Linked DNA regions of Homo sapiens: region 2 is linked to region 1. The links come from fine-mapping of genetic effects on gene expression. Tissue or cell type: whole blood. Region 1 holds a variant in brackets; the other region holds the start of a gene. All regions are shown on one strand. Distances are from middle to middle.

Evidence for each region. PIP is the estimated chance that this variant, and not a neighbour inherited with it, causes the effect.
Region 2: it holds the start of INPPL1, and the variant in region 1 is fine-mapped to the expression of INPPL1 in whole blood (TOPMed, PIP above 0.99).

What each region holds. Positions count from the first base shown.
Region 1 is chr11:72,296,534-72,304,633 of GRCh38, forward strand. CLPB (ClpB family mitochondrial disaggregase) reads right to left here. Exons shown (of 16, transcript NM_001258392.3): 10 at 5,771-5,815; 11 at 5,270-5,431. LOC124902708 (a long non-coding RNA gene) reads left to right here and starts at 3,430. Exons shown (of 3, transcript XR_007062766.1): 1 at 3,430-3,647; 2 at 3,833-3,928; 3 at 4,200-6,428. RefSeq lists an enhancer at 4,665-5,864. The variant T/C (reference allele first, on the strand shown) is at 4,796.
Region 2 is chr11:72,221,384-72,229,478 of GRCh38, forward strand. It overlaps INPPL1 (inositol polyphosphate phosphatase like 1), which reads left to right and starts at 3,384. Exons shown (of 28, transcript NM_001567.4): 1 at 3,384-3,783; 2 at 6,807-6,870; 3 at 6,965-7,115; 4 at 7,344-7,464; 5 at 7,707-7,847; 6 at 8,082-8,095. The coding sequence starts at 3,602. FOLR2 (folate receptor beta) reads left to right here. Exons shown (of 5, transcript NM_000803.5): 5 at 87-567. The coding sequence ends at 379. RefSeq lists silencers at 1,870-2,099, 2,340-2,739, 3,290-3,649, 3,660-3,869 and an enhancer at 5,275-5,634.

The DNA of each region.
Region 1 (8,100 bases):
AACCTCAAGGGCATGACCGTACAACAGCACTTTATGTCATTTATAACAAAAGCAATGATCAGGGACTCCTTGAGAGCAAGCAATAGAGTGACAATGCCGAACACGGACAGGGACTTCTACTTTCATCACAGATGCTCTGCTTAGTGCTTTTTGTGTACAACCCCACTCCTTCTACTAGGAAAGTGGCTCCTTGACAACAGAGGCTGGGTCTTGTTCATCACTGTGTCCCAGAACAGCGTCCGGTACAGAGTAGGTGTTTGACACCTGCTTGCTGGAGGCTGGAATCTTCACATCCACCCTTGGAGGTAGGTGCAGTTAGGACCCCTACAAAGAAACTGAGGCTCAGAGAGGATCATAACTTGTTCGAGGTTTCACAGCTAGGATACAGTAGAGGCGAGACTTGAACTATCTGACCTCAGAGCCCATGCCCTTCCTCTGCACCAGGCTACAGAGGTCAGACCAATGGTGCTGGATGAATGAGGCCTCGTGCTATTTTCTTTCCTTCGACAGAATTTTCTCAGAATTCTGCCAAATTCAGTTTGATCCTCACTGGAGAGATGCAACTGGGACAGGTGCTAGGGAGGAGATCTACCTGAGATTTCTTTTGGGAAGCAGAGAAAGCACAGCTCCCGCCAAGCCAGAAACCGTGGCTCTGGGGATATACATCACTGACCTCAGCCTGTTGGCTCCTGCCTGAGCCAGGGATGCTGGGCCCTGCCCGAGCTTCAGGGTTAGCCCTTGCTTCTAAAGCCAGTGTAATGGTAAACCCAGTCCTACTCCTTAGGAGCAAAGGAGAAAGGACTGTGCATCAACCGAGCTAGCTTACTGCATGCTGGGTGTAGTTTCCAGCCTTGCTTTCCACTGGACCTTGGCAGAGGCCTTTGAGAAACTGTTAATTCCCAAAGGGTCTATACACAAGGGGCCTGGTAATCCACATCCTGGAGCTGGTCACTCTGCTGTCCCTGCCTTGGGGCAGGAAAAGGGAAGCAAGGGTGCAAGCAGATGTCCTTGAGCTTTTACCAGCAGCTTTTCACTCTTACCCCACTGCTTATGGGTTCTAATCTAACAGATCCACTGAGGGCAGTTCTAGTTTTGGGGACCAGGTGTGTGTGTGTGTGTGTGTGTGTGTGTGTGTGTGTGTGTGTGTGTGTGTGTGTGTGTGTGTGTGTGACATGTCCAAGCATGTGCATATGACTGTGTGTGTGTTCCATACTCACTTTGCAGAGCTCATCCCTAAGGACTGGGTTCACACACTGCTATACTGGCCAGAGCAATAACCTAGCAGCAATTTCATTCTCAGAGATCAAAGCTCTGCTCATAACTGGGCCTGAGGATGGGTCCCAGGTGGGTGAGGGGAGCAGGTGCAGTGCATGACTGACCCAAAGGGTGACTTTCAGTGCTCATGTCTCCTCCTCAGTTTCCTTAGCAATAAAGATGTGTCTCAAACAGGAAGCTGTCCGTGCCTCACCTCCCTCTAACAACCAGAGCGTGCACATCTTGGGTGGGGCTTGAATGCTCACCCCAGGGTTATGGGGCTGCTTTCCCACTGTCTCACGTATGACTCCTTGGTGGGAGGAGTGGGGGCTGGGCTCTCTGGGGACTAGTCTCTTTCTGGGACTTCTGCCCTGGGGTCACCTGTGAGTGGCCAGCAGTAGACCTGCTTGGTGCTTTGATGAGAGCAATAGGGTTCTTACTTTTCTGGGCCCAGGCTTGGGAGAACTAGACTGGGTAGGGGTGAGGCTGCTTCCCTCACACCTCCAGCCTGGATTAGGTGCCCCTACAACTCCTGGCACTTGCTGCTTGTCCCTAGCGCAGCACCGACCACAGTGGACTGAACTACTTTTTAGCTGCCTGTCTCCGCACTCATTGGTCACGCCAAGGCCAGGGCTGCATCTGTTTTGTCAGTGTCCCCTCTACCCCACACAGCGCCTCATGAATAAATGAATGAGCCACATTCTTTTGGTTGGCTCTTTTTTGTTTTTGAGACAGGGTCTGGCTCTGTTGCCCAGGTTGGAGCGCAGTGGTGCAATCTCTGCTCACTGCAACCTCAGCCTCTGAGGCTCAAGCCATCCTCCCACCTCAGCCTCCTGAGTAGTGAGGACTACAGGCACATGTCACTATGCCCAGCTGATTTTTGTATTTTTTGTAGAGACAAGGTTTTGCCATGTTGCCCAAGCTGGTCTCGAACCCCTGAATTCAAGTGATCTGCCCACCTCGGCCTTCCAAAGTGCTGGGATTACAGGTGTGACCCATCATGCCTGGCCTGGTTTTGCCTCCTACTTCTCTGGCGAGTCTGTCTTGACTTCCCTGATAGGTCCCAAGGCTCTGTGTATAGCCCTCTTTTCTCTGCACATTATACACTCCCTGGGTTACAGACCTCATCCATTCCTGTGGCTTCCGTTAACCTCTCTGGGCTGAAGGATTCCTGAACTGCTATTTTCAGTCAGACCTTTCCTAAACTCCTGACCCATAAAACTGATGAACGGCCCCTTGGCCATCTCCATCTGGATGTCCCTCAGGTATCTCACCTTCAACATTTCCACACCTCAGTGCCTCACCTTCCTCTTCAATCTGCGGCTTCCCACTGTGTTCGCCGCCTTAGCTGATGGCCAACTGGCAGCAGCCAACTGGCCACCCTTGGCTCCTCCTCCTCTCCTCAGTCAACCTTCTAGTAGTTTCTCCAGCCCATGGCCTCCCCAGCTGTAGCTTGGGCTCCCCAGCAGTCTCCTTGTTAATGACCCTCTCCCTTCTCATCCATTCTTTACACAGCTGCCCACGGCATCTTTGTAAAGTGAAAATTTGACTGTTTCTTTCTTGCTTAAAGTCTTTAAAAGGCTCCTTACTCTCTACCAGAGAAATGCAAACTTCTGTGCCTGGCATTTTAACTGGGCCCTGTTTACCTTACCTACCTTGTCTCTAGCACTCTGTCCTTGTTTTCCCTCTGCAATCGAGCAGTACTGACCAGCTGCAGTTCCCTGAGCATGCCAGCCTGTTTCATGCCCTGTACTTTTATACATTAGGTTTCTACTGCCAGCCCCGCCACTCTGTTCACCTAGCACTTACTAACCCTTTGAAGGTTTGCTAACTACTGTTGAATTAAAACTACTGTTGAATTAAATTAGTCAATACAACATTTCCCCTGACTTTGTGGGCTCTGGGAATGGTTCAAGTGAACATGACAAGGGCCCATCCTCAAAGAGCCTAAATCGAGTAAACCTGGATGGCAGCTTTGGTCAATGGAACCAAGAGCATCAGAAACTATAGTAGGCTGGGGCTGGGGGAAGGGGCGACAACAGCTGCAGGAAGGAATTCCTATCAACCCCTAAAAGGCAGTCAGTGGAGTGAAGTGACGGAGGAGGGGGAGACAGGGCTTCCATGTATGGCTGATTGTACTTCAGTCAGCAGTTGCCTTCTGTTTTTTGGGCCAAGAATGCCATCAGAGGTGCCTCTCCAGGGAGACCAGAGATCAAACAGGCCGCGATGCTCACCCTCCCTCAGCGGCATGGTCCCGTCCCTTGCGTGCTTCACTGAGACGGACCTCGCTCTTTTGGCCCTAGCTGCGTGGCAGTCATTCAAGCTGCAGGATCTAGAACTGGGCTGCCTGGGTTTGAATCCTTGATTCTCTCTCCCCAGCTGCATGACCACAGGTAAATGACTTAATCTTACTTTGCTTCAGTTTCCACATCTGTTCAATGGAGGCCGTAATAATAGCTAGCTTTGGAGGGTTGTTGAAAGGGTTAAATTGATACACATAAGCCTCTGAAGACAGCGAATGGCACACAAAATGCAAAATGCCAGCTACTACCATGTCTCCTTTCCACCTGTCTACCAGGCAGAGAGCTCCAAGAGGGCACATTCGGGTCTGGTCATAGCTGTGCACTTGAATCCCATCAAGAGGCTGGAATGGAGTAGAGGCCTCAGTGTACACGTGAGTAACTGAGTATGTGACCTCTGAAGGACTGGTCTCTTCTTCCTCAGCAGAGGTTCAGGGGCAGGGAGCAGCTGAAGGGCTAGGAAGATACAACGGAACGGGCAGGGGCAAGGAGGCTGGGCCAGGTGGGGAAGGCAGTGAGCAGCTGGTAGGAGATCTGGATCTGGATCTTCCTGGCTTGGTACCTGATGTGCTGTTCGGTCTGGAGGAGTCCCCTCCCTGTGGCCTCCTATGACATGGGAAGCAAACCACCTTTTTGTTTTCCTAGGGCTGCAGGAGACTAGGTAGAAAGGTGAGCTGGACTCATGGCCAGGTGCTAGCTAATATAGCCCCTGCATGAGAGAAGAGAGGCCTCATCCCCGGTTCAGTCCTTGGCTCCTCACGCTCTCTTGATGGAGCAGGGCCCCTGAAAAGGTGGAAGTCATCTTCTTCCGTGATCGTAAGCAATCCCTCGCCTGGTTCAAGGTAAACAGTGGTATGGGGGGAGAATTGGGGCTCTGGGATCAGACATATCTGCAGCCCAATCTTGGCTCTTTACACAGCAGCTGTGGCCTTAGGCATGTCTTTTATAACCTCTCTGAACCTCAGTTTCTTCATCTGTAAAAAATGAGCTAATTTCTCCCTTGCCTGTTAGGAATTTTTCTACCTACCTTGTGAGGATTAGTGATAATGGCTGTAACGTCTTTAGTACAGGTCTAGTACACAGAAGGTACTGGATAGAAGTAAGCTCTTCTCTCCATTTAGAACTTACCCCTACGAGCAGGGGAACTGGACAGTCTGTGAGAACCCTCAGATTCTCAGAAGAGAAAGGCTCCATGAATCAGAGTATCAGCATCTCACCATTAGCAGCAACAATATTAGCAT[T/C]TTAAAGAACTGCAGGAGACAATGTTTGGCACACAGGGAGGAACAAGAGCTGTCTGAGGCAGAAGGATTTTTGGGGCTTCTCTGATTCAGCCTCCTCGTTTGTCACATGAGATCTCTGATGCCTAGAGATGGGCAGTGACTTGCCAAGGCCACAAAGCCAGTCAGGAGCAGAGCTGGAACTAAAAATTCATGTCTCGCTCTCATGGCACCTCTGCCATACCATGTCTCTCTAGAAGGTGGGCTGAGCAGCCACACAATTTCAACTCTTAGGCAGGGCTGGTCTTCGCTTGAGTGCCCCACCCAGGCCCTAGTGCAGAGGGGCTAAGTTGCACCTACTGGATGAATGAATGTACACATGCGGGAGCAGGAAGCCGAGGAATGACCAGCTAGCCTCTGGGCCCTTGCTTTCTGCTGTTCACAGTCCCCCTTATCTCCAGGTGTCCCCCCGCTCCATCCTGGCCCAAGGTGACTCACCTCATCAAACAGCTGCAGCATGATGGTGAGCACATCTGGATGGGCCTTGTCTACTTCATCAAAGAGCACCACAGCATTGGGGCACTGCTTCAACTTCTTGGTCAGCTGGCCACCCTCCTCATGGCCAACGTAGCCTGGTGGAGACCCAATAAACTTGGCCACCTGGTAGAAGGAAGGAAACATGCTAGGAAGGCCTTTCTGTGCTTTTAGTTTCCAACATGGGGCATGCATGGGAAGATGACTTTATACGCTATTAAGGTTGCCTCTCTCAACAGAGATGATTGGCTGTCCATCTCCTGGTGTGGCAGATAGATCTTCTCTATGTTTATTCTTCAGAGCAAATCCTATGTGAAACAAATCAGTGACCCTGCTGCACACCTGTGCTCCCAACGACAAATCCCAAGGCTGCTGGAATTATCTGAGGCCCAAATGACAAGACCCCGGCAGTCATGCTGACAAGCCCTCCAAACCATGCTTCAATCAAGGACTGTCATCACTCACCTCGTGTCGCTCCTGGAACTCGGACATGTCCAGCCTGATGAAGCCCTGTGTGGAAACAAGCAAGTACCAACTCCGTTTGGAGGCAGGAAAGTGAAGAGAAGGGTTAGGGAGGAGAGCACCTCAACTATCCCCAAGGCTTTCACACCACACCAACATAAGATCTTCTATCTCACGCTCAAGATGTTTTTTTCTGACTTCCTGTCTCCTTTTCTGTGCACTCATTTCCTACGAGTCCCTCATTCTCTTCCTTAAAAGACCCAAATCATGTACCTGACCTTCTAAATCTGACTTGGGGTGTCTTCTTTCAGGGAGGCCTCTCCTGTTCTGATCACCACATCATCCACCCACCCATCCATCCATTCCACGTTTCCTGAGGGCATCCTGTGTGTGCTGGACACCGGAGTTACAACAGGGAACAAGTCTTGGTCTCTGTCCTTAAGAAGCACCCCATCGAATGGTGCAGACATGGACAAAGTCAGTCACGATCAGTGTGGACTGTGGTGCGAGGGAGGAGAGAAACACTCAGATGGCTCCAGAATGCCTCTCAACTCTGCAAGTCTGTGTGATGCCCGTGTCCCTTTGATTTACTTTTCTTCAAAATGAATATATTTTAAAATGTATTTACATTTCTTCATTTCATTAAAAAAGATATCCATAACATAGCTTTACAGCCCTTTTCTCTCCACCACAGGGTGTAGGGGTGATTTCCGAGGAAGTGGCCCCATGGGTGAGGGCCATGGTTAGCCCTTGGGGAAGAGAACAGCTTGCATTATGTGATCTGAAGAGTTAACACAGGCAGAGTGCCCACTGGTTTTCAAGAAGCATTACCTGATTAGGGAGCTGTAAAGGCATCCACAGGTGCCCTGTCTAGCCACAGCCAGGACCACAGTTCCCCACAGTCCCCCGGGCTCCTCTCCTACTGGCACATGCCTCCATCTAAGAGACAGCATTCACTGAATCCTGCTTCTCCTGAGAGCCGGTGATGATGGGGGTGCCAAGATTCTCAGCGGGAGGTAGCTATGTCTGAAATCCAGGGCTATATTCTAGCTTGGCCACTGGTCAGAAATTCACGCCATGATGTACTTTTAGTTCTTTCTCTGTCCTGTCATTCTACAGCTGAGACACAGGGTGGCAAGAAGAACCCTGGGCTGGGAGCCAGGGGGCTCGGGTTCCAGTCCTAGTTCTGCCTGCCTGTGGAGCCTTGGACATGCTGCCTCCCCTTTTTGAGCTGCAGTTTTGTCCTGTGTTACAGAAGGCTCTTGGCTCCTCTCCCTGCCTCACCAGGGGTCTGAGGATCTAATCCAAGAGGTGGGACAGGGCTTAGAGAAGTTATTAAGGCCACATGGGGGAAAGCACTGCTATCAGCACATGGGGCATAAGCCAGAAAGCATTTCCAGAGGGTCCCTAGGCTGCTCAGTCAAGAGATCTGCAGGTTTCAGGATTTACTGGGTATTTACTATGTGCCTGGCAATGTTTTAGGCAAGCTATAAAGGGCTTAGAACATGTACAAGTCTCTGAGGTAAGCACTACTATCATCTCCACTTTACAGATGAGAAAACTAAGTCACAGATTAAAGTAACTTGCTCAAGGTCACCTGCGCTTGGCAATTCAGCTCCAAGTCTGTGCTCTTAGCCATCATGCTACACTGCCTCATAGCTTCCTCTCTGCCAATCAGCTGGGCTCTTGACAGTCTTCACCTTGAAGGGTGCTGAGCTTTGTGTCCAGATGCCAATGAATGTCGGACGACAGATGGACTATAGACTCTCGTGCTTACTTATGTCAAGTGACCTGGGTTCTCACCCTAGTTCTTCTAATGATTTGCTATGTAATTTTGAACAAGTTTTTGGGCTTGACTTTCTTGGCCGGAATCATCATTTTGATTTCACATGATCTTAGTGAGGCAAGAACAATAAGAGTAACATCCAACATGTACTGATTGCTTACCACATGCCAAGAACGGCGTTTAACATTTTACATCACTATCTCATTTAACCTTCCGAACAATCCAGTGAGACTGGCACCATTATGGAGCCTACTTTACAGATGAGAAAGCTGATGTAAACAGAGGTCCTGGCCAACTCCACCTAGTAGAGTACAGTTGGGATTTGAACCCAAGCAGCTGGACTCAGATAGTTGTTCTTTATCCCTTATCATATTGCTACTATAACTAAGTCTTTTGGGCTCCACCACCCTACCTTATGATGATATCACAGAACACCATTAAGGTTCCTTCCCAAGGCTTATTAGCTCTAGTAAGGAAAGTTAACAGAGCCACTCAATTTGGAAGAAATAGTATACAGGCTAATGAGAGAAAAAAATAAGTTCACAGA
Region 2 (8,095 bases), 75 kb before region 1:
GTGGGGTGAAGATTTCTGGGGGTGGCCAGAAATGAGCTTTGGGCCCAGGGGCTGAAAGTCTGTGTCCACCATGCCTCTCCCTGCAGGAGTTAACAAGTGCCCAGCTGGGGCTCTCTGCCGCACCTTTGAGTCCTACTTCCCCACTCCAGCTGCCCTTTGTGAAGGCCTCTGGAGTCACTCATACAAGGTCAGCAACTACAGCCGAGGGAGCGGCCGCTGCATCCAGATGTGGTTTGATTCAGCCCAGGGCAACCCCAACGAGGAAGTGGCGAGGTTCTATGCTGCAGCCATGCATGTGAATGCTGGTGAGATGCTTCATGGGACTGGGGGTCTCCTGCTCAGTCTGGCCCTGATGCTGCAACTCTGGCTCCTTGGCTGAGTTCAGTCCTCCCAGACTACCTGCCCTCAGCTTGGATAACCAGGCTGGGCTCAGCTCAGCTCCCACAAATGACAGCCCCTTAAGCATGCTTCTATTAGTCACCTAACCCTCTGTCACCCAGTCTGTTGCTGCTCCATGGTGGGGCCAAGAGTCACTTCTAATAAACAGACTGTTTTCTAATAATTCCATGTCTGTGGAATTGTTTTGGTTGTGAGTTTGTGGGTGGGTGGGAGACAGATTCTACGGCTTCTGGATTCCTTCAAATTAGAGCAACTAGACCTGTGTTTGAATCCCAGCTCTGCTACTTTGTGAAAATGAAACAGTTGCTTCACTGCTCTAAACCTTTGTTTCCTTCTGGATAAAAAGAGGATAATAGTCCTGCCCTCAGGCTTGTGAAATATACAGGAGCTGTTGCCTAGAAAGCCCGTGAGCCCAGTGTCTGCACATTAATAGTCTTCAGGGATCCTGTTGTTCCTGTTGCCCCAAGTGGGAGCCAGGTCCTGAGCTTATTTGTCTTGGTCTCCAAACAGCCTCCTGGTCCTCCAGCCCTTGTGCCTGGCTCTGTGCTCGGCTCTGTAACAGGAAAGCTGGGAATGGGAGTCCAGGAAAGGATTCAGATTGCCAGTGGGATGAAAAAAATTCACAGTGGGATGAAAAAAACGTGATGCACATTGAAGGAGCAGAGTTGGGGCCTGGGACTCTCAGAGGAAAAACAGAGCCAATTGGAGAGGGCAGTGTAGGGGGTTTCTGGAGTGGAATACTCAAGAGCCTGGAACTGGTTCAGCGCTTTGGTGTCCTGGAGGTGTGGCTGGAAGAGTTAGAAACCCTTAAGGGCTTCCCGGGGTCAGGAGCCTCTGGCACCTTTGTCTCCTCCTGGGATTGGCAGATATGCCTATCTTGAGGGGGTTGCTCTGTCTTTGCAAAGCCCTCGGGAGCTGGGCCTAAGTTATCTCTGGGTCTCCCAACACCCCTTTCCCTTTGGATAAGTCTTTGTTTGCACACTCCTACTACAACTGTCCCCAGAGAGGCCCAGGTAAGTCTCTGAGAACACCCTGCAGGTAGGTGGCCCAGCTAGGACTAGAACCCAGGTGTGCAGACTCCCAGTCCAGGTCTCTCCCCCACTACCAAGGATTCCCCTCACATCAGGCTCATCTTTTCTTATACTAAAAGGTGGCTGATGAGAACGGTGGCACAGATTGTAGGATGAGTTATTGGGTTCTGGAGGCACTGTTGGGTGGGTGGGTGGATCTCTTAGTTATTATATTTATCTAGTGTGGAAGGCCCCACAGAGCCCCTTCCACGTCCCAGGCTCTGCTCCAGCTGGGTTAAGTCAATGCATATTTGAAATAGAGGAAGGAGCTCGAGGGACTGACCCGGGCTCCGTCAACAGGTTCAACGTAGCAAAGTGAAAGTTCTCTCCCAGGTTAAAGGGATTCTCCCACGGCGGCCCAGGAGATGGTGGCGGCGGGCGCCCGGCTGGAGGCCTGCGCCTTTAAGGAGCCAGGGGGCGGAGGGGCGGGGCAGGAAGACGACTCCCCGGAGACGCCGCCACCGGCTAGGTCTTTTTTTGGGAGGGGGCGGGCCAGACCCTTTTATGGGCTCCGCCCCCTTTGCGGCTGCCGCGTCCCCCTTCCGCCCTCGGCTGGAGGGGAGGAAGCTAGGGGGGCGTTGCAGCGGACCCCGTCTGGGAGCTCCCCGCTGGGCGTCCGGCCCGCGGAGGCGCGAGTTTGCTGACTCGGAGGGAGCCGCTGGGGCGGGGGCGAGTGCTAATAATACCCGTTCGTTCCGCAGCCGCGCTTTACAGTTTACACAGCTGTCACCTTCGTTTCTCCTTAATTAATAATAAAAATAGCCGCCGTTCGGGAGCGCGGGCTGGGCGCCAGGCCCGGTGCCGAGCGCGGTACGAGCTCGGCCCCCAGAGCCGGCCCTCGCCACAGGATCCCCATTTTCCAGAGCGGGAAGCCGACGCTCAACCCCGCGCCGCGACTTGCCCGAGGTCACCCAGTGGGCCAGCGGCTCCGGGACCGAGGCGCGGGGCGGGGTGAGGCGAGGCGCGGTGCTGCCCCCGGCTCCCCGGGGCGGCGCGGGGCGGGGCGGGCGGCGCGGAGGGCGGGGGCGCGCGCGGATGGCCATCTTAAGTGGCCGCCTGGAGCCCAGGGCCGCTGTCCGGGGAAGGGGGCGCCGGAGCAGCCCGGGAGGTGGGGGTCTGCGTGCGGCGGCCGGGATCCCGGGAGGGAACTTTCTACTAGACGGGCCAGGGATCCTCCTGGCTTCGGACTGCTGAACCCCCTCAAGGCCCGGCCTGCGGGTGTGGGGGGTGGTGCTGGGGAACTTGGCCGAGAGGGGGAAGGGCTCTGCGGGGCTGGGAGGGGCTGCGTGAGAGGCTCGAGAACGTCGCACCTCGTCTGGGCCCCCCGCCAGAGTAAGAATCTTCAGAAGCCTGGTTAGCCAGGGAATCTCCCCGCAGGCTTTGCCGGGGGACGGTTCCCGTGGAGTTGGGGGTTCAGATCTAAGAGGGGGCTGCATTTCGCAGGAGTTGGGGGCCCCGCCCGCTTGGGTGGAGGGAAGAGGATGGGTAGGGGGTGGTCCTGGATCCTTCGCAGGTTTGGGGAACTCGATGCAGCCAAGCTGTAAGGGGGACGAGAGGAAGAGCCATGGAGTGGAATCAGACCTTTATGGGGCTTAGGGGTCATATCATTGGGAGAACTGAGAAGCGCTGAATTCTCCAGGGGGTGCCTGGATCCCGAAGTGTCGGGGCCAGGATGGGGGGACTCGGATTTCGATGGGGATTTGGGGACTGGATCTCCTCGGGTGAATGATGGGGGCAGGATCATTGTGGGGTCTGGGAGGTCCCGGGCCCTTCGGGAAGGTGGGGGCACCGTCCCCGCAGGAGGAGCTGGGGGCAGGGGCGGCCCGGGCTGCGGGCCGAGCGGAGGGGGAGGGGGCGGCAGCCGGCCCTGCGCTCCGCTCCTGCCCCTCCCCCGCCGCCTCTGAACAAACTTTTCTTTCTCTTCAAGTTGAGGCCGGCGCTGCAGGCAGCGGCGGCTGCGCGGTGAACGAGGCGGCCTGCGCGGCGGAGTGCTGAGTCCCGATCCCCGGCTCTGTCCGGCCCACGGATCCTCAAGCCCGGGCCCCGGGCCCGGCCCCAGCCTCAGCCCTGAGCGTCTCGGGGCGGATGGCGCGGGGCGGCGGGGGCGGGCGGTGCTGAGCCCTGCGCGGGCCATGGCCTCGGCCTGCGGGGCGCCGGGCCCGGGGGGCGCCCTGGGCAGCCAGGCCCCCTCCTGGTACCACCGCGACCTGAGCCGGGCGGCCGCGGAGGAGCTGCTGGCCCGGGCGGGCCGCGATGGCAGCTTCCTGGTCCGAGACAGCGAGAGCGTGGCGGGGGCCTTCGCGCTCTGCGTCCTGTGAGTGGGGCGGGGGCTCCTTGCGGGCTGGCGTGGACCGGGAGCGCGGGCACGGCCGGGTGTGGAAAGGGCCCGGGTGAGGGTTTCTGGGGCGGTGGGACGCCAGACCCGCCTCCACCCCCCAGAGTGGGAGCCTTGGCTTTCTCCTGGGTCTGAGGAGGGACGCAGGGGCACTTCCTGCTGTGTGTCTGGGGGCACTTTCAGGAGCCTTGAGGGTAGAGAATATGGGGTTCTGTGGCCCAGTGTGACTGTGATGACGAAAAATTCGGGCATTCCCCGGCAGACCCCTTCAGGCATCCTCCAGGTAGAAGGGAGCAGGGGAGAGGATGTGCATTCCACGTTGTGTGCAGTCCCGTTTGGATAGGGACTGAGTGGTGAGCAGGAGAGGGAGTCGGGGCAGAGGGACTGACGGGGTGTGTGGGGATGCCTGGCAGCTTCCTTAGGGCCCCTTTCGGTGCTTTGGGGTTCTGCCTGGCCGTGTATGGGTGGTGGGGGCGGTGATGGGTGGTGTAGAGAGGAAGGCTTGGGGAAGCAGAGGCTGAGGCTGTATGGGACCTTGCCATTATTTCTGAACCAATGAGTGAGTGTTTGAGCCCTGGCTCTGGGCTTGAGCCCTGGTTACCTGGCTGCCCTAGCCCTGAGCTATGAGTGCTGAGTGAGAGCAGAGCCAGACTTGGTGCTTCTCTGAGTGGGCCAGGTCCTGTGGCTGTGCCTTTCAGCCCAGTGTGGTTGGTAGTGGTGCTGGGGTGAGTTAGCACTCTTGGTTTTGCAGCCTTCTAGCGGCTTTGTACCTCCTGCCCTGCAGTCTGACATTGAGTTGGCTTCTGTGGGCCCAGTGAGTGGGAATCTGTGGGGGCTGCTTTATTTAGATCAGTTATTTAGATCTTTATTTAGATCTTTCTTAGCTCTGTGAACCCCCTCCCAAACTCCTGTCCCACTGTACCTTCCTTACCCCTTTGTTCTCCTGACATCTTTGGTCGGGGCGCACATTAGCCTAGACCAGGGGAGACCTTTTTTTTTTTTTTTTTTTTTGAGAAAGAGTCTCGCTCTGTTGCCCAGGCTGGAGTGCAGTAGTGCAATCTCGGCTCACTGCAACCTCCGCCTCCTGGATTCAAGTGATTCTTCTGCCTCTGCCTCGCCAGTAGCTGGGATTACAGGCGCTCGCCACCAAGCCCAGCTAATTTTTGTATTTTTAGTAGAGATGGGGTTTCACCATATTGGCCAGGCTGGTCTTGAACTCCTGACCTCAAGTGATCCACCTGCCCCGGCCTCTCAAAGTGCTAGGATTACAGGTGGAGCCACCTCGCCCAGCTGGGGAGACATTTTTAATTGTCACAACTGGGATGGTGCTATTGACATCTAGTGGGTAGAAGCCGGGGATACTGCTAAACATTCTACAGTGCACAAGAGAGTCCCCCACAACAAAGAACTGTGCAATCCAAAATGTCAGTGGTATGGAGGTTGAAAAACTCTAGCCTAGGCAATTGACCCAACAAGGAAGGGGCCCTATAAGTCTTAGCTTAGGCCTCAAGTCTGAGGCCCAGTAGGGGGAGACTAAGGAGGGACAGACTAGGCAGATGAATATCCCCAAGTCCTGCTTCCCAGCCCCCTCTGAGGCATACCCCCTAATTAGGCTGGGGAGGGAGGCAGGTGCTGGGTCAGCTGTTGAGTGGGAGGGGGACAGCTGGGGCCTGTGTCTGGGTGAGGAACATTATTGTCCCAGGAGGGGGAGAATCCTGGCCTCATTGCCAAGGGAGGCTGTGAATGGGGTGAGGGGTCTGTCTGTGAGTGGGGGCTTCAGGTTTGCCAGCTGACTCTGGCTCTTCCCCGCATCTCAAGAGCCTGGGGGTAAGGATCAGACGTGGGCGATCAGACGTGGGCAATATCTTAGATTTGCCAAATACACACATACTTGCTTACCTGTATACATTCCGGGTGTTCATGGATAACATGCAAGACACGCCCCTGCCCCAGCAGGCACAGGCAATCTGACCAGCAAGCTAGGATACTGGCCCTGGCTTCTGCCATGGTTTAAAATCCCAACTCCACCTTTTACTTACTCTGTGGCCTTAGGAAAATCACTTTTATTCTTTGAGCCTGTTTCCTCAGCTGGAGAATGGGGATAATAATATCTGTTTAGAAGTGTGAGAATTAAGTAAGATTTATAGGACACTGGGTACCCAGCGTGTCACAGATAGGATTCAGTTAATGGTATGCTATTGTAATAAACACAGATAGTGTTTGTAATAGTCTACAAAGGAACACCTGGTGACAGACACTCACCCAGCATAAGCAGCCAGGAGAGTCACCTAGGGTGACTCCTGGGTGACTCCTTGGGGAAGCATGCCCTGAGGTGCGGAGGCAGAGGATCTTCCATCCCCCGCTGATTGTGCACCTGGCTCAGCTGCCACCTGCTCAACTGCGGCTCCTGTCTGTCAGCACCCCTCTTGCCCCTCCTTGGCTTGGGGCTCCTAGAGGCCCAGGTCTCCCATGGGGGCCCTCTTTGGTGGGAAGGCCTAGGGTGATGCCCCCACACTCCTCGGCACAAGTGCCCTAGACATACCCGACTCCAGCAGAGCCAGAGAGCAGCATAAACACAGGAGGCATACACACGTGTTAGCACGTTGCCCGTGTGTGCAAATGGGCTAACCAGGCTTCTGAAGACTCTTACTCTGGCGGGGAGCCCAGACTGGTACCACAGCCCAGAGGGGCTGTTTAGACAGCTGTGGAGGCCACAAAAGAGCTCCCTGTTGCTTCTCAGGCCCTGCCCTGTGGTGGGTGTGGAGTCTGTGTAGGTCTGGTGGGGAGACGGGGGTGTTCTGGTCATTCCTGCCCAATAGGCAACACCAGGAGGGTGGAAGTGGACCGGCCACATCATTAACCCTGTGCAGCCTGGGCAGGTGGTTTTAGGGAAACCAAGCTGAGGGGGTTGGGGTGCTGAGCTTGCTGGCAGGAGGAAGGGGTGCTTTGGGTCTTAGACCCCAGCCTGGGGGTGACAGATTCTGGCCCTGCCTTGGCATCAGGTATCAGAAGCATGTGCACACGTATCGCATTCTGCCTGATGGAGAAGATTTCTTGGCTGTGCAGGTAGGAGCTTGGGCCCCTGACCCCTGACCTTGATCCAGCCTAGGGCTTGGGGACCTGCTGGCTGACCCTTCCTCCCACCCTTGCTGGCCCACAGACCTCGCAGGGTGTGCCTGTGCGCCGCTTCCAGACCCTGGGTGAGCTCATCGGCCTGTACGCCCAGCCCAACCAGGGCCTTGTGTGCGCCCTGCTTCTTCCTGTAGAGGGTGAGCGAGAGCCGGACCCACCGGATGACCGGGATGCCTCAGGTACTTCCCAGTGTGCAGGTCCCCTCCCTGCCCCTGTCCCTTGGCTCTACCTGCCTCTTCCCATCCCCCCTTCTCAACCCCACCTCTCCTGTAACCCCCTTTCCCTTGGCCATGATGCCGGGGCCCTTTAACCCTCTTTCCATGGAAGTCACTTTACAGCTGCATCGTGCCTCCTACTCCACTGAGTGTGGGAGGCCCAAACGGCTGCCCACTGACCCCTGCCCACAGATGGGGAGGATGAGAAGCCCCCGCTGCCCCCGCGCTCTGGCTCCACCAGCATTTCTGCCCCCACTGGGCCCAGCAGTCCCCTGCCAGCTCCTGAGACTCCCACAGCTCCAGCTGCTGAGAGGTGAGACCCCCATCCCATCCACTGAACAGGAGACCCTTTCTCCTCTGAGAACTATTTCCCTACCAAAGGTGGGGAGGCCTTCTAAGACCCCACCAGGGACCCCCACCCCACCTCAGCCCAGAGGCAGATAACCTGATCCATCCCGCCCTGGTTGCCACAGGTACTATCTCCTCTAGGGATGGGGCAGAGGTGCTGGGACAGGTCAGCAGGACCTCCACTGACTTCTTAACCCCTCCCCAAAGTGCTCCCAATGGGCTGAGCACCGTCTCGCACGACTACCTGAAAGGCAGCTATGGGCTGGACCTGGAAGCTGTGAGGGGTGGAGCCAGCCACCTGCCCCACCTCACCCGTACCCTCGCTACCTCATGCCGGAGGCTGCACAGGTATCTGGGACATCCAGCCCCATGTATTACACCCTTACCTCTGACCTGTCCTCACCTGCTTCCCGGCTGCACAGGTGCCCTGATCTCTGATCCTGAACAGTGAACTAGCCATTGCCTCTTGACTTTCCTCACTGGTAGCCTTTATCCTTGTGGTGAGGTTGAGGCTACACCCAGCGCCCCCTTCCCTATACTTAGGTCGGGGTGGGAGTTCTTTTGATCTGATGTCTTCCCTAGTGAGGTGGACAAGG